Homo sapiens: one gene and its partners. The protein of the gene in region 7 purifies or fractionates together with the protein of the main gene of each other region. This does not show direct contact. Each region holds a gene or a part of one and is shown on either strand. Other genes may lie near its edges. The genes, in order: HDX, RPAP2, IFT81, CRCP, RPRD1A, CCDC138 and POLR1E.

Evidence for each region.
Region 1: the proteins of POLR1E (region 7) and HDX purify together in Homo sapiens (co-immunoprecipitation; one large-scale study listed by IntAct). This does not show direct contact.
Region 2: the proteins of POLR1E (region 7) and RPAP2 purify together in Homo sapiens (affinity purification with mass spectrometry, with the first as the bait; one large-scale study listed by BioGRID). This does not show direct contact.
Region 3: the proteins of POLR1E (region 7) and IFT81 purify together in Homo sapiens (affinity purification with mass spectrometry; one large-scale study listed by BioGRID and IntAct). This does not show direct contact.
Region 4: the proteins of POLR1E (region 7) and CRCP purify together in Homo sapiens (affinity purification with mass spectrometry, with the first as the bait; one large-scale study listed by BioGRID). This does not show direct contact.
Region 5: the proteins of POLR1E (region 7) and RPRD1A purify together in Homo sapiens (affinity purification with mass spectrometry, with the first as the bait; one large-scale study listed by BioGRID). This does not show direct contact.
Region 6: the proteins of POLR1E (region 7) and CCDC138 purify together in Homo sapiens (affinity purification with mass spectrometry; one large-scale study listed by BioGRID and IntAct). This does not show direct contact.

Annotation. Positions count from the first base shown.
Region 1 is NC_000023.11:84,320,693-84,324,869, reverse strand, and holds part of HDX (highly divergent homeobox), read left to right. Parts: intron 1-2,855; coding exon 2,856-2,981; 3' UTR 2,982-4,177.
Region 2 is NC_000001.11:92,326,006-92,330,182, reverse strand, and holds part of RPAP2 (putative RNA polymerase II subunit B1 CTD phosphatase RPAP2), read right to left. Parts: intron 1-4,177.
Region 3 is NC_000012.12:110,214,399-110,218,575, reverse strand, and holds part of IFT81 (intraflagellar transport protein 81 homolog), read right to left. Parts: intron 533-4,177; coding exon 350-532; 3' UTR 1-349. UniProt on the Homo sapiens protein: Component of the intraflagellar transport (IFT) complex B: together with IFT74, forms a tubulin-binding module that specifically mediates transport of tubulin within the cilium. Binds tubulin via its CH (calponin-homology)-like region.
Region 4 is NC_000007.14:66,148,986-66,153,162, reverse strand, and holds part of CRCP (DNA-directed RNA polymerase III subunit RPC9), read right to left. Parts: intron 956-4,177; coding exon 806-955; 3' UTR 1-805. UniProt on the Homo sapiens protein: DNA-dependent RNA polymerase catalyzes the transcription of DNA into RNA using the four ribonucleoside triphosphates as substrates.
Region 5 is NC_000018.10:36,060,929-36,065,105, forward strand, and holds part of RPRD1A (regulation of nuclear pre-mRNA domain-containing protein 1A), read right to left. Parts: intron 1-4,177. UniProt on the Homo sapiens protein: Interacts with phosphorylated C-terminal heptapeptide repeat domain (CTD) of the largest RNA polymerase II subunit POLR2A, and participates in dephosphorylation of the CTD by RPAP2.
Region 6 is NC_000002.12:108,848,901-108,853,077, reverse strand, and holds part of CCDC138 (coiled-coil domain-containing protein 138), read right to left. Parts: intron 2,444-4,177; coding exon of another isoform or gene 2,388-2,443; exon of another isoform or gene 1-2,387.
Region 7 is NC_000009.12:37,488,271-37,492,447, forward strand, and holds part of POLR1E (DNA-directed RNA polymerase I subunit RPA49), read left to right. Parts: intron 1-1,044; coding exon 1,045-1,130; intron 1,131-4,011; coding exon of another isoform or gene 4,012-4,105; intron 4,106-4,177. UniProt on the Homo sapiens protein: Component of RNA polymerase I (Pol I), a DNA-dependent RNA polymerase which synthesizes ribosomal RNA precursors using the four ribonucleoside triphosphates as substrates.

The DNA of each region.
Region 1 (4,177 bases), on a different chromosome or scaffold from region 7:
AATAACTGTGAATAAACAAAATTAGGTACAAGCAGAGGAATAACTTAAAGTGTGGCTCTTGTTTTGAAAGTCATAGCATGGTTGTGAATTGAGAGTTATATGGCCAAGTAACTAGCAAGTTTCTGTGCCTCTTGACATCTAGGAATAGTACACAGACCCCATTTTATTTTCTAATTCTAACTTCATTCCTGGTTTGGTTCTTTTCCCAAGACCAATAACAAATGTAATTAATGTGCATTTTTATTTTTCTCTTCCTCTTCTTTCCCTCTGATTAAAGACTAATAAATTAGTATATGGACAAAAGTTGGTTGAAAGAGAACATGATTCAAAAATTGTAGTGAACTTCATAGCCAGTATAATCAGCACCAAATAGAAACTACTAATTTGTATAATTAAGAATGAGTATAATGAATCTTAGAATATGGTCACAAAATATAGAAGACACGAATAGTAGTCCAAAAAAGTTATCTAGGTAATCGCTTAAACTACTGATCTTTACATCATGAAATATTTATAGGTTTATTTCTGGAAGGAGTTAATTTTTATTCTACCTAATAAAAGACAACCACATGTCACTGGTTTTTAATTTTAAAAAAGATCTTCAGTTTTCTTCCATTAATCTTGATTTGTGTAAGTTGAGTCAGATGTGTGGTCCACAGAATATTTTGGACCATTGAAGTAGTCCAGGGTTTACAAAATGTGATACTCTCTGACTGAAACACTAGATTACCCAAAGATTTTGTTGTTGTTGTTATTTAAATCAATAGCCACTTTAAAATCAAAGTAATATTTTCAGCATTATACTTAGTCATTTGCTATGGTCTTGCTTCCCCTGATAATTCACTGCGTGTTCCTAGCCAGATCAATTGCGTTTCTTGAACTTCAATTTCTCCACTTTGCAAGTGGGATAAGAATGATTAATACTACAGAACTTGATATTCATACCATAGGGTCTAGAATAAGTGTTATAGATCTGAGCATATGGAAAATGCTTTAATCTCTTGGGAAAAATGACCGTAGGTCAGACCCTGAGGATAGTTGTCATTTATGAAACATTTGTAATAAAGAAAGTTAATCGTATTCACGTTAGTATCTGTGAAAAAGGCAGTTCCAACAATTGTTATAATCCAAAGATTTTTTTCAGTTGCAAATCTAGTAAGATATTGAAAGAAGAATTTTAAAGTGGACCACATGTATTAGTTGTGCCCTATGCTGCCTCAGATATTAAAATTTTTATATTTTTTACTGCACTCATTTTACTCAACTACTTATAATGCAGTAACAAAGAAATAAATAATAATGCTTCTTTGATTTGTAATCTCCCCACTAGAAATTAGAAATTAGAATATCATGAAATCTTATTCTCTTGACTTTCTGACTCTAAGAACATGTTCAGTCAATGTTAATTTGAACACTTTCTCCTCTTTAATATGGCATCTTCAGAATTGCAAAGCGAGTTAAATCCAGTGATGTATGTCATATAGACTGATCAGCCAATGTCAGAAAAGACCCCATTGCACTGGGACTGGGTTAGTGGTAAAACACTTTTCTAGGAGAAAATGGCTCCGTGTCCTATTACTGCAATCTAGCCACTTAGAAAGCAGGCATTACCTTTAAGTTAGTTTACTGTGTATATACTCTCAGTTCCAGCAATAAATTAATGAGAAATTCAATTTTATAAAATAAATAATAACAGCTAGTCTGCCAGATAGGGGTTAGTCTTCCCTTACATAGCCTGATAAAAATGAGAATGTTTTGATCTTGCCCCTGTGCTACAAGGCAGGAAGTATAGGATTTGCAGCTGCCACTTATTTTAATAAAGAGAATGAGTGCATACTGTCTTATTTCAACAGTGGATTTCATATATTCTCCAACATGCCCTTTCTGTTCCTTAATTGGCTAGTGACAAGCTTTCATTTCTTCCTGTTCCCTTGGTCTTTATTTACCACTGCACCCAAAGCCCACATTACAAGTAATACTGTCTAAAAATTGCCAGATATGCTACATTATTCTTAGTATTGGAAGCAGCAAATCAATCATTAAGTTCAAAGTTCCTCATGGTCAAGTGAACATTAGCATTGTCAGCTGCGTAAAACTTGATTAATCATTTATTTCTTTAGAATGGGTGCATGTTCTACAACTTCAGATAAAACAATTAGACCATGACAAAGCTTATTTCATCATTATTGGATTATCCTTATTACTCAAGCAGAGAAATGAGTAGCCCTCCAGATACATCATTACTACAGATAGATCCACTGATTCAGCTGTGCCCTGGTGGGTGCTTGGCCATCTGTAGGTATGAACATAGCCTTAGGAAAGAAAAAATAAAATTACTTGGTCTTTTCAAGTTGTTAAAATTTAGTCTAAAGTAAAATAGCTGGAGGTTTTTCCTAACTACTAAGTTCTTTCTCCCACTGAAGAACAAAATAGTCTTTTGTTAAATGCAGTCTTCTACAAAGGACAGCATAACTGGCATGAATATTTTAACAAAGAACGCAATTTTAAATCCCTTAAACAGTGATCAATGCACACTCAAAACTAGTATGAAAATCACTAACCTCAAACACTTCAAAGCACTTGGTTCAGAAGAGTTGCTCATTTCCCTCCTAATATCCCCTTTGTACAGGTTCTACTCTACAGAATTCACACTTTCAACATCTAGAATTTTGTTACCTTCTGAATAATGTATGAAGAATTTTTCTTTTAGGTAAGGCATTGTCTAAGATCCTGAAATATAAATTATTCTTTAAATCCATAAGGATAATTCACCATGGGAGGACTACAACTATTAATATAAATTGGAAAACAATCTATCCACATACTAATCCAAAAATATTATTTTTTTTATTCAGGCACTGCTGTCAGATTTACCTCCTGAATTAGAGGAAATGGATTTCAATCATGCCTCACTGGAGCCTGATGATACCTCATTCAGTGTATCTTCTTTGTCAGAGAAAAATGTCTCAGAAAGTTTGTGATTTCAGTTGGAGGGAATATATGATACAGTCTTTTGGCTTCGTAACAGGTGTGCATTTCAAGATAACTGCATTCTGTTGCCCTGGTATTCTTTAGTTGGGAAAACACATTGTTGAAACGGACGTATTCTGTGAAGAATGTACAAGATATAATGGCTACAGTGCAACAAAAATGTAGGTGAAATTTAAAAGCATTGTTTGAGAGAGTATTTTTTTAACTGATGGAACTCTGGAAAAAAATTATATTTAAGTTTCAGCAGTTTAACCCTGAAATTCATTATGTCTAATTTCTAACCAGAGACAAAATAACTAAAGACATTTCAGCATTGCTTATCAAGTTGCTACAGCTTGATTAGTCTTGTTTTTGTAGCCATTACATCTTCTTTCTTCTTCTCTCCTTTTCCTATCATCCACTTACACTTTTTCTCAGGAAAGTGGACTGAACATTTAAAACAAAACTTTAAAAAATTATTTAACTCATTATTTAATGAGTTCTCTGATTTAGTTTTTAACCCCTATGAAAATTTGACTTAAACTAATGACTGAAAATTAAATGATTACAGGTATGTAATTGTAAATTGCTGGTGTTCTTCTATTATCTAACCCAAATATTTGTGTGGGGGTGGGGAAGCACAATGGAAAGGTAATTTAACCAACATAACGTCAAATAAATTACGAAGTGTACAGAAACAAAATGTTGTCAAAATTAGTCTTGATGGGGATTCTTCATTACTACAAATGACAAGTATTGATACGATTGACATTCCAGTAGTAAATTTGTATACCTGGGTTAGATGAAGTGTTACACAAATATTTTAAATTTATCACCATCTTTATAATTCTTTTTTAGTTCTTACATGTTATGAAACAGGAAGTCAAGGTAAGCTGCTGAGATTTTTTAAAAATTTAGTCATTCAGCTTTGCCACAAAATTTACCTCATTTCCATATGAGGCCTGTACAGAGCCATCAGCCAAGGATAGTATTCAAAAAGAGTTATACTACTTTGGTTGTAAATCACAGTCTTCTGAATTCCATGAATACTATTCTATGAGTACACACCTAAAATGGGCAAGCTACCCAGTTTTCTATTATTAGTAGGTACCAGATGGCAACACACTGTAGACTGTTCTTTGTAGTTCTTCCTTTCTGGAGTACCAGATGGTATTACCAAGACCCATAGAAGAAAAAATGTCAGTTT
Region 2 (4,177 bases), on a different chromosome or scaffold from region 7:
TGTATGGGCTGCATCAATGGGCTTCCTTGCTCTCTGGCTTTTATCTCAGTTTTGCCAATGAAGAATAAGAAACTGGACGGTGCAGAAGAGTCATTCCCACTTGGTCCACTACAAGCAGCACTTCCTTGGTACAAGACCTTGTGGTCCACTCCTACCTTTTTCCTTGAGGTCTAGGGGTGGTGAGGGCTCTCAAACTATGATTAGTGTATCATTCCTTTGGTTTCCTTCATTCTGACCACATTTTCACGCTTTGGAAAACAGTCCTATAATTAAACTTTCCTCAGATTACTTAATTTGTACCATGTGATTTATGATGAGACCATGACCAATTCATACGCTAATGTCACTCATTCTGAAAATATGTGCAAAAATTCTAAGGCAAATATTAGGAGGACCAAATCCAGTATTATATAAAAAGGCTATTATAGCTCAATCAAGTTGAGTTTATTATAAGAATGCAAAGTTGGTTTAATATTAAAAATAAATGTTAGGTCTGGGAAAAAATAGCAGATAGGAGGCAGGACTAACTTGCAGTTCCCACTTGGTCAGACAGAGCGGCATGTGGAGACTCCCATCATGAACTTTTGCTCCAAGAACTACCGCAGAAACATACCAGAAAAGGCAAGGAACTGTGAGTCAGCTTGCTTTCTCAGCTGGGAGGCCTGTAGCCTGGGGCAAGTTCTCAGCCCTGCTCATCAGCTGCCTGGAAATAAACTTGGTGCTGTTGTGGGGGCACGGTGGGAGTGAGTCTGGCCTTTTAGGCTGCAGGCTGTGTGGAAGCTGGGTGAGGCCTGTGGTTGCCAGCTTTCCCCCACTTCCCTAGTGACCTGTGTGATGCAGCAGAGTCAGCCATAATCCACCTGGGAACATAACTCCATTGGCCTGGGAATCACACAATGGTACCCCCACCTGATGGTCTTTCTCTACTGGCCCTGGTAGCCGAAGACAAAGGACTTAATCTCTTGGGAGCTCTATGGCCCTACCCACTGCCTGACCCCAGAGCAAGCTTGTATCCTCCCTATCCTACTGCAGCTGATGCACTCTTGAAAGCACCACCTCCTGGCTGAAGGCCAACCAACACAAAACCAGCGCACTTAAAAAAAATACAATTAAGGACCCTCACAGAGTCCACTTCACTCCCCTGTACCTCCACTGGAGCAGGTGCTGGTATCCACAGCTGAAGACGGATCACATCACAGGACCCTTTGCAGACACTCCCTAGTACCCGCCAGAAGCCTGGTAGCTCTGCTGGGTGGCTAGATCCACAAGAACAATAACAATCACTGCAGTTTGGCTCTCAGGAAGCCCCATCCCTAGGGGAAGGAGGAGAGCACCAAATCAAGGGAGCACCCTGTGGGACAAAAGAATCTAAACAGCAGCCCTTGAGTCCCAGATCTTCCTTCTCACAGTCTACCCAAATGAGAAGGAACCAGAAAAACAATTCTAGTAATATGACAAAACAAGGATCTTTAACAACCCAAAACATCATACTAGCTCACCAGCAATGGATCCAAACCAAGACAAAATCTCAGAATTGCCAGAAAAAGGATTCAGAAGGTCAATTATTAAGCTAATCAAGGAGGCACCAGAGAAAGGTGAGGCCCAACTTAAAGAAATCAAACAAATCATACAGGATATGAATGGAAAAATCTCCAGTGAAATAGATAGCATAAATAAAAAACTATCACAACTTTGGGAAATGAAGGACATACTTAGAGAAATGCAAATGCACTGGAAAGTCTCAGCAATAAAATTGAGCAAGTAGAAGAACTTCAGAGCTTCAAGACAAGGCTTTTGAATTAACCCAGTCCAACAAAGAAAAAAGAATTTAAAAAATGAACAAAGGCTCCAAGAAGTTTGGGATTATGTCAAACAAACAAACCTAAGAATAATTGGTGTTCCTGAGAAAGAAGAGAAATCTAAAAGTTTGGAAAACATATTTGAGGGAATAATCAAGGAAAACTTCTCCAGCCTTGCTAGAGACCTACACATCCAAATACAAGAAGCTCAAAGAACACCTGGGAAACTCATCATAAAAAGATCATTGCCCCGGCACATAGTCATCAGGTTATCGAAAGTCAAGATGAAGGAAAGAATCTTAAGAGCAGTGAGGCAAAAGCATCAGATAACTTATAAAGGAAAGCCTATCAGATTAACAGCAGATTTCTCAGCAGAAACCCTATAAGCTAGAAGACATTGGAGTCCTATCTTTAGCCTCCTTAAACAAAACAACTGTCAGCCAAGAATTTTGTATCCAGCGAAACTAAGGTTCATAAATGAAGGAAAGATAGTCTTTTTCAGACAAACAAATTCTGAGAGAATTCACCACTACCAAGTCAGCACTACAAGAACTGCTAAAGGAGCGATAAATCTTGAAACAAATCCTGGAAATAATACCAAAATAGAATCTCTTTAAAGCATAAATCTCACAGGACCTATAAAACAATAAGACAATGAAAAAAAAAAAGCTGTTCAGGCAACAAATAGCACGATGAATAGAATAGTACCTCACATCTCAATACTAACATTGAATGTAAATGGCCTAAATGCTCCACTTAAAAAATACAGAATGGCAAAATTAATACGAATTCACCAACCAAGTATCTGCTTTTCAAGGGACTCACCTGACACATAAGGATTCACATAAACTTAAGGTAAAGGGTGGAAAAACATATTCCATGCAAATGGACACCAAAAGTGAGAAGTAGCTATTCTTATATCAGACAAAACAAACTTTAAAGCAACAGCAGTTTAAAAAGACAAAGAGGGACATTATACAATGATAAAAGGACTAGTCCAATAGGAAAATATGACAATCCTAAATAAATATGCATCTAAACCTGGAGCTCCCAAATTTATAAAACAGTTACTACGAGACCTAGGAAATGAGATAGAAAGCAACACAATAATAGTGGGGGACTTCAGTACTCCACTGACAGCACTAGACAGGTCATCAAGACCTGTTCCTGAATGATCACTAGGTCAACAATGAAATCTAAGTAGAAATTAAAAAATTCCACTGTGGTCTGAGAGAATATTTGATATAATTTTGATTATACCCTAGAACAAATGGATTTAACAGATATTTACAGAACATTCTACCCAACAACAGCAGGATATACATTCTATTCATCAGCACATGGAACAGTCTCCGAGATAGACCATATGATAGGCCAGCTGAACTTTGTAACAATTCCAAATGAACAGGAAGTCTCCTGGCCAGAACTCAAGGGAGGGTGTGAATCTGGTGTGCAGACTCCACAGGCTGGGAGATGTGAAAGCCCTACTTGTTCTCACAGGTGAGAGGCTGGTAGCCTGGGGCAAGTTCTCAGCCCTTCCTGCCCACTGCCTGTAAACAAACTTGGTGCTGTTTGAAGGGACATGGTGGGAGTGAAACTGGTCTTTTGGGTTGCATGGGAGCTGGGTGAGGCCTGCCACCAGCTTTCCCCCACTTCCCTGACAACCTGCATGACACAGCAGAGGCAGCCATAATCTTCCTGGAATAGCTCCACTGACCTGGGAACCACACTCCCATCCCCCACAACAGCCACAGCAAGCCCTGCCCAAGGAGTCTTGAGTTCAGACGCACATAGCCCTGCCCCCATGACGGTCCTTCCCTACCCACTCCGGTAGCTGAAGACAAAGGGCATATATTCTTGGGAGTTCTACGGCCCTACCCACAGCCTGATCCTCCCTATACTACCACAACTGATGCTCTCTTGAAAGTGCCACCTTCTGGCAGGAGGCTAACCAGCACAAAAATAGTACATTAAACAACCAAAAGCAAGGATCCTCACAGAATCCATTTCACCCCCCTGCCATCTCCACCAGAGCAGGTGCTGGTATCCATGGCTGAGAGATCTGCAGACCTGACCTAAGAGATTATCCAAGTGGTCAATAAGCAAATAAAATAGTGCTGAATTTATTCATCATCACAGTAATGTATTATAATCATAAACCAATACTACCAGAATGGCTAAAACTAACTATATCAAGTACCAGGGAGGACATGGAATCAAGGAAACTCCCATATAGTAGTAGTGGAACTGTAAACCGGTACAACCACTTTGGAAAACTGTTTGGCATTATCTAGTATAGTTGCATATATGCATATACGATAACCCACCATTCCCAGTCCTAGATACTTCAGAAATACATACGCATATTAGCAGAGAGA
Region 3 (4,177 bases), on a different chromosome or scaffold from region 7:
GATTAAGAAAAACAGTAAGCCACTGGGTTATTACATTCTAAAAAAAAACTACATGTTTCTTAATGGACATATGTTTACATTTACAGATAGTAAACTTAGTTTCCTGTCTCATAAAACTCAGAAGACGCCAGTGATGTCTAAACTATGGAAAAGAATAAAAGCCTCTTTTTCATATGAAAAAACATTCAAACTAAATCTACCTTAACATTATTTTCTATGAAAACTTAATAAAGAATGGCTCTTCTGAAAACAAAATGCTATACAAATCAGTTTCAAAAAAGAAATACATTATGAGATTAGGCTTATAGCTAGTGGTATCAAGTAAAACCCCAAACGATGACACAAGAATTCACAGTATTAGCCGGTCCTCCCCACCCTCCTGAATTACCTGACCAATGGAAGTTTGGCTTTGTTGTTTCAGAAAGCACTGTTTCTTACATTCCATTAATTGTTCCAAATCACGCCACATTTTTGCTTGTTTCATATTTGGACCATGACTTTCTCGTATAACTTTTTGTTTTTCCCGAAGTTTCTATCATTAAAAAAAAACAAGAATAATTAAATCTCAGTTACAGGGGTTTATTTCTATTGCTATAGTCGGAGGAATATGGTATGTTTTCTACAGTAGATAAAAAATAGTTAGCTAAACCACATACTCTATAATGTACCAAAACTAAGATTATAAAAGTTAACTAAGGCCAGACGAGGTGGCTCATGTCTGTAAACCTAGCACTTTGGGAGGCTGAGGTGGGCAGATCATGAGGTCAGGAGATCAAGAGCTCTACTAAATCCAACACTAAGTCAAACTGTTTGCCTTTCTAGTTCTCCAAAAAAATACAAAAAAAAATTAGCCAGGCATGGGGGCACGCGCCTGTAGTCCCAGCTACTCGGGAGGCTGAGGCAGGAGAATCGCTTGAACCTGGGAGGCGGAGTTTGCAGTGAGCCGAGATCACGCCACTACACTCCAGCTTGGCAACAGAGCAAGACTCTGTCTCAAAGAAAATACAAAAAACAAAAACAAACAAACAAAAAAAACTACACAAAACTATAAAAGGAAGTGAGAGAAAAAGATAGTTAGGAAAGTGGAACAGTATCATGGTGTGAAAAGAAGAATGTAGAGTTTGGAAGTCAGAAGACTTCGGTTTTAATCTGGTTTTGTCTCCTCTAGTGGTAAGCAAGGCACTTAATTTCTTGGGACTTCAGTTTTCTCAATTATCAATTAAGGTTAATAGACCAGGCATGGTGGCTCACGACTGTAATCCCAGCACTTTGGGAGGCTGAGGCGGATAGATCACTTGAGGTTAGGAGTTCGAGACCAGCCTGATCAACAAGGTGAAACCCTATCTCTACTAAAAATACAAAAATTAGCAGGGCATGGTGGCGTGTGCCTGTAGTCCCTGCTACTCAGGAGGCTGAGACAGGAGAATGGCTTCAATCTGGGAGGTGGAGGTTGCAATGAGCTGCAGTCGTGCCACTATGAGACTCTAAGTCAAACTGCTTGCCTTTCTAGTTCTCCAACAAAAACCAGCTAGGAGGATATACATGACATATTACTCAAGAATGTACAGTTATAGCTCATATAGCTTTAAAATAATTCATTTATTAGCCTAAGCCTGAGAAATGTCCACATTTTGTTTTAGAATTTCCATTTACATAAAAATTTCTCAAGAAACCAACAGGATCAGTATATTCTATATACTAAAACCTAATACTTATTTATTCAAGATATAATTATGAAGCACCTGTTATATGTCAGGTATGCTTGGAGTTTCAAGTGGAAAACAGGACTCATGCTATATAGGTGGGCAGATCACCTGAAGTCAGGAGTTCGAGACCAGCCTGGCCAACATGGTGAAATCCCATCTGTACTAAAAATACAAAAATATGAAATACAAAAATTAGCCGGACATGGTGGCATGTGCCTGTAATTCCAGCTACTCAGAAGGCTGAGGCAGGAGAATTGCTTGAACCTGGAAGGCAGAGTGAGCCAAGATTGTGCCACTGCACTCCAGCCTGGGCAACAGAGTGAGATTCCGTCTCTGGAAAAAAAAAAAAATTAAGGTGAATAATAGGAGGCTGGGGGCTGGGCACGGTGACTCACACCTGTAATTCCAGCACTTTGGGAGGCCAAGGCAGGAGGATTGCTTGAGCTGGGGAGTTCAAGGCCTGCCTGGGTAACATGATACTCTGTCTCTACAAAAATAAAAATTAAAAAATTATCTGGGCATGGTGGTGGCACATGCCTGTAGTCCTAGCTAGTTGGGAGGCTGAGGTGGAAGGGTCACTTGAGCCAGGAATTTGAGGCTGCAGTGAGCTATGCTCTCACCACTGCACTCCAGCCTGGGCAACAGAGCGAGATCCTGTCTCTTAAAAACAAAACAAAACAAAACAAAACAAAACAACCAAACCAAGGCTAATAATAGGGGAAAATAAAAGTATTTACTTGGTAAGATTATGTTTTCAAGTGACATAATAGATATTGAAATACTTGATAAATTATCATGTATTATATATATCCTTGTTATTAAATGTTATATTCTATCTTATCCTGAAACAGTGTATACTCTATTTATGTCCAAATAAATCAAATTGTATGCACATATACTTCAGAGAGCAGGCCCAGTGATTACGAAAATAGTACACTATTAAATAAGCCAAAATCCTTCTTAGAATTGTTTTTGTTACTAACATCTTAGATGGTCCACCTGCCAAAACTGTTTTACTCATTGACTCTAAAATTTTAAACAGGAATAAAAGAATCTTCAATAAATTACAAAAATATACTTTAGTTCTATATTATGGCAAATTGAGGAAGGGTGACTGAAAGCAAGAGTAGACACAAAGTCAGAGACAATAAGTGACACGGTAGGAAAAAAGAGAGAGAGAATCCAGCCTGGGCAACAAAGTGAGACGCCCCTGTCTCTACAAAAAAAAAATTTTTTTTTAATTAGTTGTGTATGGTGGCACATGCCTGTGGTCCCAGCTACTCAGGAGGCCGAGGCAAGAAGATCACTTGAGCCTGGGAACTCAAGGCTGCAGTGAGCTGTGACCATGCCATTACACTCCAGCCCAGGTGACGAGTGAGACTGTCTCAAAAAAAAAAAAAAAAAAAAAAAAAAAAAGAAGAAGAAGAAGAAGAGAAGAAAAAGAAAAGAAAGGAATTCATTCATAATCCCATGTGCTAGAGACAACTACAGTTGACATTTTGGTAGAGAAGGTGAAAGTGCACATAGAACGAAATGCAGTGTGTTGGAAATATCTGTACCGACACCGAGTGTGAGAAAATCACCAAGAGGGACAGAAAAGCAAGCAGAGACACAGAGGCAGAGTGCAAAGGAACAACCTCATCCTTTCCTCTTTTAACATACGGTCAATATACTAGTTGATCTGAGACACAAATGAGAATGCTGGTAGTTGGTACTTGCCTAAATAAGAGGATTAACTAAGCTGAGGACCAGAGTCAAACCACCCATTAAATACTGCCCACCCAGCTATGCATAATGAAAGCAAAGTTAACAGCAAACAGGAATAGAAAACAACACAGAATTTTAAAAATATAAATATAACCAGTAAATTTTTTGATGCAATACCTGGCATATTAATACATCTATTTAAGTTTATGTTACAAATAATGTATCTTACAACAAATATTTTATCCTTATAAACTAAAAAGTATTTAGAAAGGCCATTAAGGCAGACCAAGAATTTTAAGACTTCTGCACACGATTTTAAATTAAGGCACTACTTAACCTGTAACTTTTCTTATATCATTGGAATAATTTCCTTGTCAAAAAATCCTAACAACCTATAAAAGTTATTTAAAGAACCAAAGACAGGATGTGGGCACTGTCTGTGTCAGAAATATTAAATTTAATTTGCTTCATAACCATGTGTGTTTGAAACCTTTAACTTTATGAATACAACTGATGTTAGTATGTATATATTTTAAATCTTATTATCATTTACATTTGTTTACAGTTGCAATGTACAAAAATTACTAATCACTGATTTCATTGTTCTTTAAAGGAGGAGATGGTGGTATAGAAGGGGGGAAACTCAGTTGGCCTGAGGAGGTCTATGGATGTCCAGTTTATATTGGCTTAGAGGGCTTAGACTATCATCACTTTGAAAGGCTGGGTTTGTTCTGTTTGCCTTGAAAATTTAGATCTACTCTAGA
Region 4 (4,177 bases), on a different chromosome or scaffold from region 7:
CCAGGCTAATTGTGTCCTTTTTAAAGGAACAAACAATTTGACTGTTGTGCAAATGAGGCTTACCTGGTCTGAATATGAAGCACCTGCCCTGGGCTGCTGTCTCAGGGCAGGAAAGTGGGGTGGTCAGAAAGGCAGCCAACACTGTTTCTGCTGCCACTGTCACTAAGCCTGGAGTGCCCGTTTTCAACTGCAGTGATCTGGTCCCTAACATTTAGCCTAAACAGTGAGCTGGTAAACAAAGCCCCTGCCAGCAGAGAAAAGGGGCTCTAGAGCTGTTGAAGGATTGGCCAGGCCGGTTCTTTTCTTATCTCTGTTGTTCTCGAGGAAATTCCTCTAAGGTGAGCCAAGGTCAGTGGCTCATTTTAACTTAGAGTAACTCTCTGGGGACTCTAACCAGACTTCCAACAGTGCTCTGGGCCCCTTAGTAAGTTCCCAGGGAAGCAGATGAAACTAATTAGGACATGGCCCACCAAAGGCGACACAAGCATTTTCCCCGCTGTGCACAGAGACCTCCCCACAACTGGGGCAAAGGCCGTGGAGGAAATCTTTCAAGCACAGAGGGGTCCGCGGTCACTGTCCCCACCTTCAGCTCTCTGCCCTGACAACCTCAGCCTGTTTTCACCATGTTTCTTCTCCCCAAGGCACAAATATTTCTTTTTAACTTATTTTTGTGATGTACCCAACTAACCACAAAGCCAGGCCTGCTGGGATGAGGATAAAAATCAAATAAACAATCCTCTCAACGTCCAGGAAATGGCTGCCAGGCCTTCTGACTTCATGAAACGCCGGGGCCAGCTGTGCTCTTCTATGCTGGGTCCTCTTCGTCCATTGCCACATTGCTGTTTGTATTCTTCTTCTGCTCAGCCTCTGGCTCTGCAGGCAGAATGCTGGTGACGGTGTGGAGAAGAGCTTCAATCTGCTCCTCCGTGAGCCGCTCTTCACTCTCTTCCACCATCTGCAGAAGGAAAGAAAATCCTCCAGGGTTACAAATGAAACTTACAGCCTTGGGCAGCCCTGCCCACTGTGCTCATGGTCTCAGCCCGGCCTCCTGGCACACAGACCTCACAGCCTGGGTCCTCGTGAGTCCTCTCCATCTTACAGACGGAAGGGTGGAGCCAAGTCACATCCTGGACTGAGCCAATGCGACTGATCAAAATGGGTCAGTAAAAACCAAGTTGTAGGATAGCATTTTTCTTTAAAGAAAAGGAAAACCCCCAGCCTGGGAAGCACAGAGGAACCCCATCTCTTAAAAACAAACAAAAAAAATCAACCAAGCATGGTGGTGTGTGCCAATAGTCCCAGCTACTTGGGGGGCTGAGGTGGGAGGATCACTTGAGCCCAGGAGGTCGAGCCAAGCACTCCAGCCTGGGTGACAGAGCAAGACTTTGTCTAAAAAAAAAAAAAAAAAAAGAAAAGAAAAAAAGGAAAAAGCTAAGTTATATAACCACACACACACACACACACACACACACACACACACACACACACAGAGAGAAGTGGTGAACAGGTTGCATATGCATCTCGAAGAAGTTAAATGGCACTTTATGTACTTTTATATTTCACAAGCACATCTGTAATTTTTTTTTTGGGGGGGCAGGACAGAGTCTTGCTCTGTCGCCAGGCTGGAGTGCAGTGGCACAATCTCGGCTCACTGCAACCTCCGCCTCTCAGGTTCAAGCAATTCTCCTGCCTCAGCCTCCCGAATAGCTGGGACTACAGGCACGAGCCACCACAGACAGTTAACTGTTCGTATTTTTCGTAGAGACGGGGTTTCACCATGTTGGCCAGGATGGTCTCAATCTCTTGAGCTTGTGATCCACCCACCTTGGCCTCCCAAAGTGCTGGGATTACAGGCGTGAGCCACTGTGCCAGGCACACATCTGTAATTTAATGAACTGTATCAGCAACACGGTTGATGATGCCCACTATGTGCCAAATGGTTTGGAGCCTTCTTCTAATCCTCACTCCCACTAGCAACAGCCCTGCAGGGAGGCCTCCCATGTGTCTGGAGCTGCATCTTGCACTTCCCATCCGGCATTTCCTTTCGTCCTCCCAACAATGCTGCTAAGGGGTAGAACTGGAATCCCCAGCCAGAACTGCCCAGTCTAAAACCCACAGTCCCCCACGTTGCACACCACACTGCCCATCAAAGGTCCACATAAAACCTGGTTTCTGATGTGGTCCCAGAAATCTGAATCTAGAGATGATACTCACAGCCTGAGCCAGTTTCCTTAGCTTCGCCCCTAATTCTAAACAGAATTAGGTCGTCAGCTGCCTTTTTAAAAGCAGCAGGCAGGCAGTCAAGTTGCTTAACCCTGTTTGCTTGGTGGCATCAACCATCAATCACAAACACCTTTCTCAGCTCAAGGTGGCCAGATTCTATTCCATGGCATTCCCCACAGCAATCTCTGAAATCCGGCAACTGGGACCACAGGGAGTTCCAGAAAGAAATCCTGGCAGACTGAAGTAAAACAAGATAATAAGACAGGCCTGCAATCCTGGAGAGGATCCCAGTCTGACCACCTCCCTTTACAGACAACAGCACAGTTCAGGAAGTCATGTGACACGCCCAAGGTCACACCACGAACTCCTGGCAAAACCCTGGTCTCTCCACTCACTTCAGCCCAAAAGTGTTTCTGCAACTAGATAATAATCCTGGTGTCCCAGGATGGGGGAGATCCTGAGTGAATCAATGGGGGCTACTCCCTATGATGCTGTGAAATAAAATGACCATTTTCTAAAGATTCCATGGCTCAGGAAAATGTAAATTCTCTTCTGAGAAAGAAACAATCTTCAACTCCCCCCCTTCACTCTTGTTGCCCAGGCTGGAGTGCAATGGCATGACCTTGGCTCCCTAGCAGCTGGGATTACAGGCATGCACCACCACACCCAGATAATTTTGTATTTTTAGTAAAGACAGAGTTTCTCCATGTTGGTTAGTCTGGTCTCGAACTCCTGACCTCAGGCGATCCACTCACCTCGGCCTCCCAAAGTGCTGGGATTACAGGAGTTAGCCACCGCGCCCGGCCAAAAACCCATTTTTAAAATCAGACATGGGGCCGGGTGCGGTGGCTCACGCCTGTAATCCCAGCACTTTGGGAGGCTGAGGTGGGCGGATCACAAGGTCAGGAGATCGAGACCATCCTGGCTAACACAGTGAAACCCCGTCTCTACTAAAAATACAAAAAATTAGCTGGGCGTGGCAGCGTGCGCCTGTAGTCCCAGCTACACGGGAGGCTGAGGCAGGAGAATGGTGTGAACCCAGGAGGCAGAGGTTGTAGTAAGCCAAGATCGTGCCACTGCACTCCAGCCTGGGTGACAGAGTAAGACCCACTCTCTTTGGGGAAAAAAAAGGTGGGGGTGAGGGATAATGTAGTCATTGTCATTTATCCTAGTGATCCAAGACGTGCTAGTAAGTTTTTTATTTCTGAAAGTTTCTTTTTTGTTTATATTTCATTTAGTTTAATGCAGCTTAGGGTTTCTTCCTGTGACTGGGAACCTTAGGTTGAAAAAAAAGGTCTTGACTGTAATTAAGGAGGATTGGATGTTGATAAAAGCTCCGGCCGTTAGTGAACTTAGCAAAATTCTTTTCTGCACATTATTTTCTCAAACGGAGATCATCTTTTCTCCAGGTTAAATAATCAAATCTTGGCTATTTCCCTCCTTTCCCTGCTTTATTCTTTGGGCGCAATCATCACTTACTGCAGTCTCAAACTCCTGGGCTCAAGCAATCCTCCTGCCTCAGCCTTCCAAGTAGCTGGGACTATAGCTATGTGCCACCATGTCCAGCTAATTATTTTTTATTATTTTTTGTAGAGATGGGGTTGCCCAGGCTGGTCTTGAACTCCTGGGCTCAAGTGATCCTCTCACATCACCCTCTCAAAGTGCTGGGGTTATAGACATGAATCACTGTGTCCGGCCTTTCACCTTTTCTTTCCAACACAGGAGAAACAGTCCAAATAAAGAAGTAAAGTTCAAAGCACCATCTCAAGGTTCTCAGATACCAACCATTTCAGGTAGTTGAGAACATAAGGGGAAATAAAACTTAAAAATCCAAAGTATCAACAGCTGGGTTAACATAAATGATACATTTATTATCTCAATCCCAGGAGCATCAAACCGGGTTGCCGACCTCCAAAAATGGCAACTTGAAGTCGCCAAACCTAAAGTCCTACTT
Region 5 (4,177 bases), on a different chromosome or scaffold from region 7:
GAGCAGCCTCGGCAACATAGTGAGACACTGTCTCATAAAAAAAAAAAAATTTAGGAAACAAAGTTAACAGGCATTCAAAGGCTGACCATTTCCAGGTTTGGCTCTTTGCATCCAAAGCTATGTATCACCTCAGCACTTTCACATATTCCCAGTGGCTGCAGGCCCAAGCCCCCCTACCCCCGCAACTTGTTCAAAGAGGTCTTTTATTAAACGTCACCTTGCAGAGATGATTTCCCTCTAACTAAAGATTTCCTCCTTCAAAGAACTAAACACGAAATTTATATTTAAAATTTTTTGTTTATTGGTTGCCCTTACCACAAGACTATAAATTCTGAGGGCAGGGATAAACTGTTTTCCCTTTGTTTTCTTTACCATTGTAATACACAATCAATAAATACAGGGTGAGTAAACATACTTTAAGGGGTTGAGGCACTTACAGTTTTGTTAAGACACCAATATAACATAAAAGAGGCTGGTACAAAGGATACAATCACTAGACTAGGGAAGGCAGTGACCTTCACCAACTACAAAGAATTTCCTCCTATCTATCTTGTTTTGTACAGCTCTTATAGAGATCTTTCAGCGAGTGTGTGTAGAAAAGAGCCCAAATGTTAGTGTTGGTTTCTAAGTTCAGGTATGTTCATGGTCAATATTTCTACAGAAATGAATATAAATTAATGATGTATATTAAGTTTTAAAATTTAGCCTAGTATTGACTGAGACATTTACAGTTTAAAACAGTCACCTTCAAAGGACACTATTAAGAAAGTAAAAAGACAACCCACTGAATGGAAGAAAATATTTGTGGTATGAATCTAATACAATACTTGTACCTAGAATACATTGGGAACACTTACAACTCAATCATAAAAAGACAAATTTTAAAATAGGCAGAATAGACATTTCTCCAGACAACATCCAAATGGCCAATAAGTACATGAAAATAGGCTCAGTGTCATTAGTCATCTGGGAAATGCATATCAAAATCATGAGATACCACTTCATACCCACTAGGACAGCTGTAATCAAAAAGATAACAAATATTAGCAAGGATGTAGAAAAACTGGACCCTCATACACTGCTTGTAGGAATGTATTTTAAAAACATGGCCGGGCGCGGTGGCTCACGCCTGTAATCCCAGCACTTTGGGAGGCCGAGGCGGGTGGATCATGAGGTCAGGAGATCGAGACCATCCTGGCTAACAAGGTGAAACCCCGTCTCTACTAAAAATACAAAAAATTAGCCGGGCGCGGTGGCGGGCGCCTGTAGTCCCAGCTACTCCGGAGGCTGAGGCAGGAGAATGGCGTGAACCCGGGAAGCGGAGCTTGCAGTGAGCCGAGATTGCGCCACTGCAGTCCGCAGTCCGGCCTGGGCGACAGAGCGAGACTCCGTCTCAAAAAAAAAAAAAAAAAAAAAAAAACATGTACCCACTGTGGAAAATAGCCTGGTGGATCCTCAAAAGGTTGAACATAGGATTCCCATATGACCCAGAAATTCCACTCCTCAGTAAGTATCCAAGATGAAAACATATCCACAAAAAAAAAAAGCTTGTACAGGAGTGCTCACAGCAGCATTATTTATAATAGCCAAAAAGCGGAAACAACTCGAACGTCTATCAACTGATGAATGGCTAAATTCATACAATATTCTATTCGGCCATAGAAAAGACTGAAGGACAGTAAGTGGTCTTTTGCAACTGGCTTCTTTTAATTAACATGTTTTCCAGGCTCATCCATGTTATAGCATGGATGGAAAACACACAAAAGACCACATACTATATAATTCTATTCATATGAAATGGTAAAAATAGTCCAATCTATAGAGGCAAAGTAAATTAGCAGTTGCCTAGGGTTGGGAGAGATGGGGGACTGGGGACAACAGCTAAATGGCATGGAGTTTCTTTCTGGGTAATAAAAATGTTCTAAAACTGGTGGTAGCTTTACAATTCTATAAACATATCAAAAACCACTGAATAGTATACTTTGAATGGATAAAAGGTGTGGTATGTGAATTACATCTTAATAAAGAAGTAACAAAATGGTCACTTACATTTTTGGTTACACTTTACTGCATTTATCAGGAAAATTGTATGCCATTTTGGTCTTCACAAAGGCCTTGAAGTTTATCCCTCCAAACAGAAACTCTTTCTTTAAAGGAGACAAAGATAAGGAAGGTAGGAAAAGAAGGGAAACCTTCATAACTGAATGGCTACCATTATCTAACATATATAATTTTACTTATTCATTCTTATATTTTTTTGTTTGTTTGTTTTCTGAGACAGGGCCTTGCTCTGTCGCCCAGGTTGGAGTGCAGTGGCGCACTTGGCTCACTGCAGCCTAAACCTCTTGGGCTCAAGTGACCCCCCAACCTCAGCCTCCTTAGGCCTGCGCCATCATGCCCAGCTAATTTTGGTATTTTCTGTAGAGACAGGGTTTTGCCATGTTGACCACGCTGGTCTCGAACACCTGAGCTCTGGCAATCCACTTCCCTCAGCCTCCTAAAGTGCTGGGATTACAGGCATGAGCCACAGTACCCAGCTCATTCTTTTATTTTAAACAGTAGCTTCTCCCACTCTCACATTTTTGTCTTTACACACTTTGAGAAACTAAAGAATGCCTAGCTTAACACAAAATGTTCAACTAATTTTCTTTAGTTTGTTGTAATATACTTTCAAGATTGATCGATTCCTTTCATAATTATTCTGCAGAAATAATGTGATTCAAGATATGGTAAAATAACTAAAAGAATGTCTGGTACTCAGTAACTGATTGCCATTATCATTAAACTACAGGAGATGAGAATCCTGAAGTTGATGAGCAAAACTGCAGGAAAGGGGAAGGACACAAAGGCTACACCCTGCAAAAGCAGTCATCTGTCAAGAAAAGGAAACCCTTGGCAGAGTAGCCCAGGCTAATATGAGGATTAAAGCGGCAGCGGTATGTTCATCAGCATCACCGTTACTATCAACACTATCATCACTACCACCCTCCTCCTAAAGCATCTTTTTATATGCTTTAACGTTTTCCACTTATGAAACACTTAAACATATGGAAACATCACAAACCTTGCTAAAAGCACATCTTACAATTTTACCACATTTGCACCATTTTCTTAAATACATTAAATATTAGATAGCTTTCTCCTATTGAGAGGTGACAACGTCCTAGCAGCCCTTGCTCGCTCTCGGCGCCTCCTCGGCCTCGGCGTCTGCTCTGGCCGTGCTCAAGGAGCCCTTCAGCCCGCTGCTGCACTGTGGGAGCCCCTCTCTGCGGCTGGCAGAGGCCGGAGCCGGCTCCATCTGCTCTCAGGGAGGTGTAGAGAGAGAGGCGCCGGCAGGAGCCTGGGCTACGCGCGGTTCCGGGTGGGTGCCTGCTGGGCTTGATGGGGGACGAGCTCCCTCTGGGCTGCTAGAGTGCCCAAGCTAGGTGCCGCAAAGTCCCGCGGCGAGTGCCATTGAGAGGTGAAGCCAGCTGGGCTTCTGGGTCAGGTGGGGACTTGGAAAACTTTTCTGTCTAGCTAAAGGATTGTAAACGCACCAATCACCACTCTGTGTCTAGCTCAAGGTTTGTAAACGCACCAATCAGTGCTCTGTGCCTAGCTAGAGGTTTGTAAACACACCAATCAGCACTCTGTGTCTAGCTAAAAGTTTGTAAATGCAACAATCAGTGCTGTGTGTCTCGCTAAAGGATCATAAAACGCACCAATCAGCACTCTGTCAAAACGGACCAATCAGCTCTCTGTAAAATGGACCAATCAGCAGGACGTGGCTGGGGCCAGATAAGAGAATAAAAGCAGGCCACCCAAACCAGCAGCAACAACCCGCTTGCGTCCACTTCCCTGCTGTTGAAGATTTGTTCTTTCACTCTTCACAATAAATCTTGCTGCTGCTCACTCTTTGGGTCCCTGCCGCCTTTATGAGCTGTAACACTCACCGCGAAGGTCTGCAGCTTCACTCCTGAAGCCAGCGAGACCACGAATCCACCGAGAGGGACCAACAACTCCGGATGGAAGGAACAACTCCAGACGCACTGCCTTTAAGAGCTGTAACACTCACAGTGAAGGTCTGCAGCTTCACTCCTGAAGCCAGCGAGACCACAAACCCATCAGAAGAAAGAAACTCCAGACATGTCTGAACATCAGAATGAACAAACTCCGGACACACCATCTTTAAGAACTA
Region 6 (4,177 bases), on a different chromosome or scaffold from region 7:
CTTTTGCAATTATTTCTTAAGGTAGATCTCACGAAAGGTTATGATGTATTTTGGTGATGTTTGTGAGCAGAATGCATTTCAAAAATATTAACTTTGATACAAACAAAATTGTGCCTATATCCTCTCAGTGACACATTATATTTGCTCATTTTACTTCTGTAATGGTTGGGTTTTTTTATTTTATTTTAGTTCAGGGGTACCTGTGCAGGTTTGTTACACAGGTACACTTGTGTCATAGGAGTTTGTTGTACAGATTATTTCATCACCCAGGTATTAAGACTAGTACCCATTAGTTATTTTTCCTGATCCTGTCCCTCCTCCCACCCTCTGATAGGCCCCAGTGTGTGTTGTTCCCCTTATGTATCCATGTGTTCTCATCATTTAGCTCCCACTTATAAATGAGAACATGTGTTATTTGATTTTCTGTTCCTGCATTAGTCTGTTAAGGATAACGGCCTCCAAGTCCATCCATGTCCCTGCAAAGGACATAATCTCATTCTTTTTAATGGCTGCATAGTATTCCATAGTGTATATGTACCACATTTTCTTTATCCAGGTTATCTTCGATGGGCATTTGGGTTGATTCCGTGACTTTGCTATTGTGAACAGTGCTGCAATGAACACAACACATGCATGTGTCCTTATAATAGAACAATTTCTATTAGTTTGGGTATATACCCAGTAATGGGATTGTTGGGTTGAATGGCATTTGTCTTTAGGTCTTTGAGGAAATGCCACACTGTCTTCCACAATGGCTGAACTAATTTACACTCCCACAAACAGTGTACAAGTGTTCCTTTCTTTCCATAAAGAAGAGTTGTATCTTACAGTTAAATTTTATTTCAGAGATTGAGCATCACATACTGATTGTGTGCAGCTAAACTTTTTTATGCCTCAATTTCCTCATTTGTAAAATTACAATAATAATATTGACATCTCATGAACTGTTGTGAGGATTAAATGAGTTAATATATATAAAGTGCTCGGCCTATAACATAGTAAGTGCTATGTAGGTGTTTATTTCTTTGGTTATCTCAGGAAGTACATGCTCTTAGGTAGTCATAAAATAGGCTTAAGAAGGTAGGCTTCAGCAATTGATAGAGGCTAAATTAGGCTCTGTCAAATGCAGATTGTATCGTTTTGGCACAATTATCTACCTTTGTAAACCTCATCACTAATATGAGGATAATAGTATTCAGAGATAAGGTATAAAGAGCTTAGTATCTGTGGTGTTATGATATATATATATAGGTTTTCGTCTCATTAGTCTTTGTTATGATGTTGGGTGTGTTAGGCCTCAGGGGAAGGTCTCTGACCTTCTCCTGCCCTCCTTTCACTTGGCCCAAGCCAGGACTCTAATCTTTCCTGGACTTTCTGATTGTGGGTCTTAACATCCTCCCCAGAGAGAGTCCAGCCCTATATCCTGGTGGACAGAATTGTGATGTCAGGAAGCCTCCATAAAAACCCAAGAGAAAGGCCGGGCGCGGTGGCTCACGCCTGTAATATCAGCACTTTTGGGAGGCTGAGGTGGGCGGATCACCTGAATTCAGGAGTTCAACACCAGCCTGGCCAATGTGGTGAAACCCCATCTCTACTAAAAGTACAAAAATTAGCTGGGCATGGTGGCAGGCACCTGTAAGCCCAGCTACTCGGGAGGCTGAGGCAGGAGAATTGCTTGAACCTGGGAGGCAGAGGTTGCAGCAAGCCAAGATCACGCCATTGCACTCCAGCCTGGGCAACAAGAGCAAAACTCCATCTCAAAAACAAACAAACAAACAACAAAAAACAAAACACCCCAGAGAAATGGGTTCAGAGAGCTTCCAGACGGCTGGACATATGGAGATTTCTGGAGCGTGGTGCTCCAGGGAGGGGACAGAAGTTCCATGCCCCTTCCCCTATACCTTGCTCTGTCTCTCTCTTCATCTACATCATTTGCAATATCCTTTATAATAAACTGGTTAAGTGTTTCGCTGAGTTCTATGAGCTACTCCAGCAAATTAAACCCAAAGAGGGGGTTGTAGGAACCCCAATTTGAAGCCAGTTGGTCAGAAGTTCCAGAGGGCCGGACTTGCAACTGGTGTGGCACGAGGCAGCCTTGGAGACTTGAGTGCCCAACTTGTGGGATCTGACACTATCTCCAGGTGGATCGTGTCAGAAGTGAATTGGAGCAGCTTGTGTCTGCTGCTTGGTATGTGGGGAAAAACCTCCACACATTTTGTCACAGAAGTCTTCTTCTGTGTGGATGATTATTGTCATGTGGGAGTAGAGAAAAAACACAGTTAAAGAGTTTTCCCTAGACAGCACTGTGGTGTCAAAACTCACCAACTGGCCAGGCGCAGTGGCTCACGCCTGTAATCCCAGCACTTTGGGAGGTTGAGGCGGGCAGATCATGAGGTCAGGAGTTCGAGACCAGCCTGGCGAACATGGTGAAACCCCGTGTCTACTAAAGATAGAAAAAATTAGCAGGGTGTGGTGGTGCGTGCCTGTAATCCCAGCTACTCAGGAGGCTGAGGCAGGAGAATCGCTTGAACCTGGGAAGCAGAGGCTGCAGTGAGCCAAGATCGTGCCACTGCACTCCAGCCTGGGCGACAGGGTGAAACTCTGTCTCCAAAAACAAAACAAAACAAAACAAAAAAAACTCGCCAAGTATTATATATGCTGATTCTTATATGAACAGTCTATTCAATATAACTAGGTATTATCTTCATAGATCTATATATATCTGGATTAAGCAGTTAATATTATGTGTAGTATCCAATGCATCTGCCTATTACCCAACACATTTGCCTACTTTCTCATTTTCTACTAAATTTATCAAATTTGAAACTGATGTTCCTATTTTATAAATAGGAAACATCTTCTTACTAGAGTTAAGTCTACTCTTAGGATTTAAGAGTTTTTCTTATGTTTAAATGTTTAGTTCTCCCAGAATTTTTTTCAGTATATTTAACGATAAAGGATAAATAGCTGTATCATGACAGTGTCTGACAGTAGTTCCGAGGACCATCTGGCTCTGACATTTCTTCCTAGGTGCTGGCATGTGCTGGGATTTGGCCAGGACAAAGGCCCCTTTTACACTTGTATTCACTGGCCCATGCATCCTGTTGAACCCTCCTAGCCCCAGGTCTTGTGTGCAGGCACACCCCACCTGCCTGCAGCTACTGGAGAGAACACCTGCAGTCAGAAAGTGCTCTTCTCCCTGAGACTCATCAGCATTCAGGCTTCTTTCTTGATGGCAGCAGCATGTACCTTGGCCCCAGGTAGTAGATGAACACTGGAACCCCACAGGTTTGGGCTCATAAGAAACCCTTGTGCCTAGGCTGGGAGAGGCCAGACTATAAGGAAAGGGAGAACTCTTGTATCTCTTCCTTGTTCCACAGTGATTAGTGTCAGATTTTTTTTTCTTTTTCTTTTTTGAGGCCACCAGGCTGAGGAGCCTGCAGCTTTAAAGGGTATCTGTTAGGCAGGAACCTTGTGAGAAAGAATCGTTCACAACAAGTGTGAAGGGAGACTAGAGAGTGAAGGCAGGGAGACGTGTCAGGGCCTGTCTGTGGTCTAGGGAGAGGTGATGAAGCCACTGAAAAGGTCATGGAGAGTCACCATGGGAGGCAGTATTCCTGAAATCCAGTGGCCAGGGTGTGGAGGAAAGGGATGGCACACATGTATCTAGAGGAGGCTAAGGAAAAGGGAATAGGAGTGACCATGAGCTCAGCTGGACATGCTCCTTGGATTTGTGTGTTTATAGTTTTCACCATATTTCAAAAATTTGGAGCCATTATGTCTTGAAATAGTTTTTGTCTCCCCTCTTCATAGACTCTAAGTACATAATATTAGAATATATGATTTTGTCTCAAAACTCACTGATGTTCTGTTTTCTTTTTTGTAGATTTTTTTTCTCTGTGTAATTCATTTTGGACAGTTTCTATTGCTATGTATCCCAGTTCACTAGTCGTTTGTCTGCAGTGTCTAATTCTCTCCAGTGTATTTTTAAATTTCAGGCACTGGGTTTTTCATTTGCAGAAATCTGATTGAAGTCTTTTTATCCCGTATCTTCCATGTATCCCCTTACCAGGCTCATGTTTTCCTTTACCTTCTTGAACACAGGGATATAGTTATAATAACTGCAGTAAAGACTTGTCTACTAATTCTATCATCTGTATCATATGATTTAAGATTC
Region 7 (4,177 bases):
ACAGGTAAAGAACTTGGTAGTGTTGAAGGCTCTGGACTGGGAAAGAGGAGCCTGGGATTCCCATCCAGCTGTGCTGCTGATTGACTGAGTGGCTGGGTAACTCTGCGCATCACTGACCCCCAGCCTCCCCCTCTGTACAGTGAAGATTGTCCAGCCTGAACTGTATCACTCTCGGGGGCTGGCATGATGCAGACAGGGCCCTGTGATGGTACCCAACAATGAACTACAAACTAGGCCCTTTCTGAGCCCCGGTGGACCATACTCCAATAGAGGAGAGGTCAGATGGGTGTATAGGTGCTGAGAACTATTAACCCTGCACTCTCCCCTCTCAGAGATGCCCTAGTTCCAATTGGTCTCCTCCCCGTTTACTTGATTTTGCCTCCATAAAACTGTTGTGCCATAAATTGTAGTGTAATTCTAGGTTCGTACACCCCAAAAGAGTTTTCCATTACACTACCGCAGTGAGCCCAAATGTGATCAACTATCAGAATCACCTAGTAGCTTTTTTTTTTTTCCCAGAACCACCTCATATCCTCCCATCCCATCCTATCCTTTCCTATTCCCTCTCTATGCAGAGAATTGCTGTGGGGTAGGGGTAGGGGAGATTATTGTTACCCATGAGTAGATGATGCATTCCTCAGGTGTGTGGGCAGAGAGAAGGTTGAGAACTTTTGAACAGGAAACAGGGCCAGGTGCAGTGGCTCACGCCTGTAATCCCAGCACTTTGGGAGGCTGATAGGGTCAGATCACCTGAGGTCAGGAGTTCGAGACCAGCCTGGACAACATGGTGAAACCCATCTTTATTAAAAATGCAAAAATTAGCCGGGGATGGTGGCGTGCGCCTGTAATCCCAGCTACTCAGCAGGCTGAGACAGGAGAATTGCTTGAACCCGGGAGGTGGAGGTTGCAGTGAGCCGAGATCATGCCACTCCACTCCAGCCTGGGTGACAGCAAGACTCTGTCTCAAAAAAAAAAAAAAGAAAGCTGTACAAATAATGCTTTTGAATAATCCATTGTTATTTGTATTATTTCTTCTTTATTCAGGCACTTTGTGGGAATTTTGAACAAGACCTCTGGCCAAATGGAAGTATATGATGCTGAATTGTTCAACATGCAGCCACTATTTTCAGGTAGGTCCCAGTCATGAAAGCTGACAGAAATAATGCATAGTTTGGGTTTGCTGGATGAGTTGGCTTGAGTTTTAGATTTATAAAACACATTTTATAGTTATTTTAATTTATTTATTCTGTTTTTTCTGCTTTGTCTGTGTTGAGAAAATGGTTTTTTATATACACACTGTTTTTTGTTTTTTGTTTTTTTTGAGATGCAGTCCCACTCTGTCACCCAGGCTAGAGTGCAGTGGTGTGATATTGGCTCGCTGCAACTTCCACCTCCCGGGTTCAAGTGATTCTCCTACCTCAGCCTCCCGAGTAGCTGGGATTACAGGTGCACATCACCACACCCGGCTAATTTTTGTATTTTTAATAGAGACAGCGTTTTACCATGTTGGCCAGGCTGGTCTCAAACTCTTGACCTCAGGTGATCCACCTGCCTCGGCCTCCCAAAGTGCTAGGATTACAGGCGCTAGCCACTGCGCCCGGCCTAGAGTTTTTTATTCAGCACACACTTATTGATAACCTAATGTACCAGGCACCAAGCTGGGGCTGTGGATGTGGCAGTAAGCAAGACAGACACAGATCCTGTCCCCATAGTGTTTAGAGACTTGAGGTCAGAGGTTCATAAAAGCAATCTGAGCAATGATCAGAGCAGAATATTAGAGGACATGTCTGATATAAAATCTTTTCCATAAAAGAACTTCCTTCATTCTTTTTATTTTTATTTTTTATTTTTGTAAATTACTTTATTTCTTCCTTGATCATTTCAAGGGACTATCTTCAAACCAGTACAAATATTTCATACGTAATACCTGGCCATTTTCTAAACAATCGAGGAGTTTGTTGCACAATAAGCTACCTCACGTCTTTCAGCAAGAAATACATTAAATTTGAAGAGTAAAGACATTACATAATGAACTAGGACATAATTAAAATTTGCCTTAAATATTTCTTTGGGGGAGAGAACACCACACTTCTACTCAATGAAGAGAAACATTTTTACAGTCCAGAGGTCTTTCATTTTTTAAACACCTGTCACGCCATGAATTCATAGGGAATAGGTTCCAGCAGCTCAGGCTGCTTCCCATTGGTTCTCACCAAGTGTGCTTCTCTGGGTGGAGCAGGCTGGCGCTTCAGTTGAACCCAGGTACCTTTCTCTTTTGCTTCTGTCTTTTTCTAATCATCTTTCTTCACCCGTTTCATGAAGCTTTCTCGGCTCTTAGAGTGCTTAATGTGCTCAATACGCACACTAATTCTCTTGGCAAGAATCTTGCCCTTGTTTGTTTACAACAATGCCAGCAGCATGCTAAACTGTAGACGCTTCCAGTTTAGCCATGGTAACACTTGAGGGGCATTCCTTTTTGAACAGTACCCATTCCCTTGATGTCTACGATATCACCTTTCTTATAGATTCACATATATGTGGCCAAAGGAACAACTCCATGTTTTCTAAAAGGTCTAGAGAACATATATTGGGTGCCTCTCCTCTTTCCCTTTGTGTTTGTCATTTTGATGAATTACTGCAAGATGGCAGTTCTGGCCGAAAGGGTTCTTTCTTAATTCTTAACTGTTATAGTTGGGGTAAAGAGGTTTTAGAATTTCTGGTAGACAAAGGAAATTGCTTATTAAGTTGTATAGTAACTTTCACGTTGAGGACAAGTCTCTACACTAATTTGAGGAAGATCTATTTTTTTTCCCTAATCCAGTGGAAGAATTTACATTGTTTCTCTGCTTTGTCATCTTAGAATGCTCAGGGCTAGAGTGAGATCTTCCAAAATAATAAATAAAAGGGTCACACTCAAGGGGCTTCTGTTCCTTAAATCTCAGAACTTGAATCCTTAGTGATGCCCTTAAATACTGGGAACCATGGCAGGATAGGGCGATAGACAAGAAAGAAACATTGGGAGCATTGTGAATCTGCCTGATACCTCAGAGGCATTAGTTCCAGTTTTATTCTCTCAAAGCAGTGCTTCCATCCCTTTTGAGAATCTGCTAAGGACCTGGACCTACTTCTGAGAAACATATATGATACACAAATACATATATATGGGATTTTTTTTAATATGGGATTTTATACATAATTTTTTTTTTTTTTTGAGACCCAGTCTCGCTTTGTCACCCAGGCTGGAGTGTAGTGGTGCAATCTGGGCTCACAGAAGACTCTGCCTCCCGGGTTCTAGCGATTTTCCTGCCTCAGCCTCTTGAGTAGCTGGGGTTATAGGTGTGCGCTACCACACTCGGCTAATTTTTGTATTTTTAGTAGAGATGGGGTTTCACCATGTTGGCCAGGCTGGTCTCAAACTCGTGGCCTCAAGTGATTCACCCACCTTGGTCTCTCAAAGTGCTAGTATTACAGGTGTGAGCCACCGTGCCTAGCCAAATTTTACACGTAATTTTAAAGGTCTCTTGAGTCCGGACACCCATCTGTGAATTTCCTAGGTGTCCCCCTGCTTTGCAAACATATATAACTATATTTAAATCATCTTCCAACTGTTCTTGTAAAATCCAGGGAGGCAAGGAAAATTGTAATTTAACGTGTTGATTAAACATATTTTTGTTGTTATATGTAAGAAGTTTGTAAATATGAGTTTATTCTAGGTAGCACACACACAGAGATAACATTTAAGTCCTTACTATATGCTAGTCACTGTTCTAAGCACTTTCCATGCATATACCAACCTTCTGGAGTAAGTACTGTTGTTCTTTTTTTACCAGTGATGAAACTGGCACAGAGGTTAGATGACCTTATCAGGGGTGATGGCTGAGATAACAGGCAAGGCCACTCCAGAGCTTGTACTGTTGTGTACTAAGTTATACTGCCCTTATTTGAGTACTTTGTAGATGATTGGAGAGCATCGGTAAGTACCACATACCTCATGTTTATGCCTGCTTTTAGGTCTTTCACCAAGAAAGCAAAATTATTTTCTGGAAAGAGCCAAGGACTTGTTTTCTAATCCTGTCTCTGCCACTACCTGGTGAACTGACCTGGGGCAAGTAATTTCATCTGTGGGCCTTCTGTTTTTTAATTTCTAAAATGAAGAGGTTGGGCTGGATGACCGCTT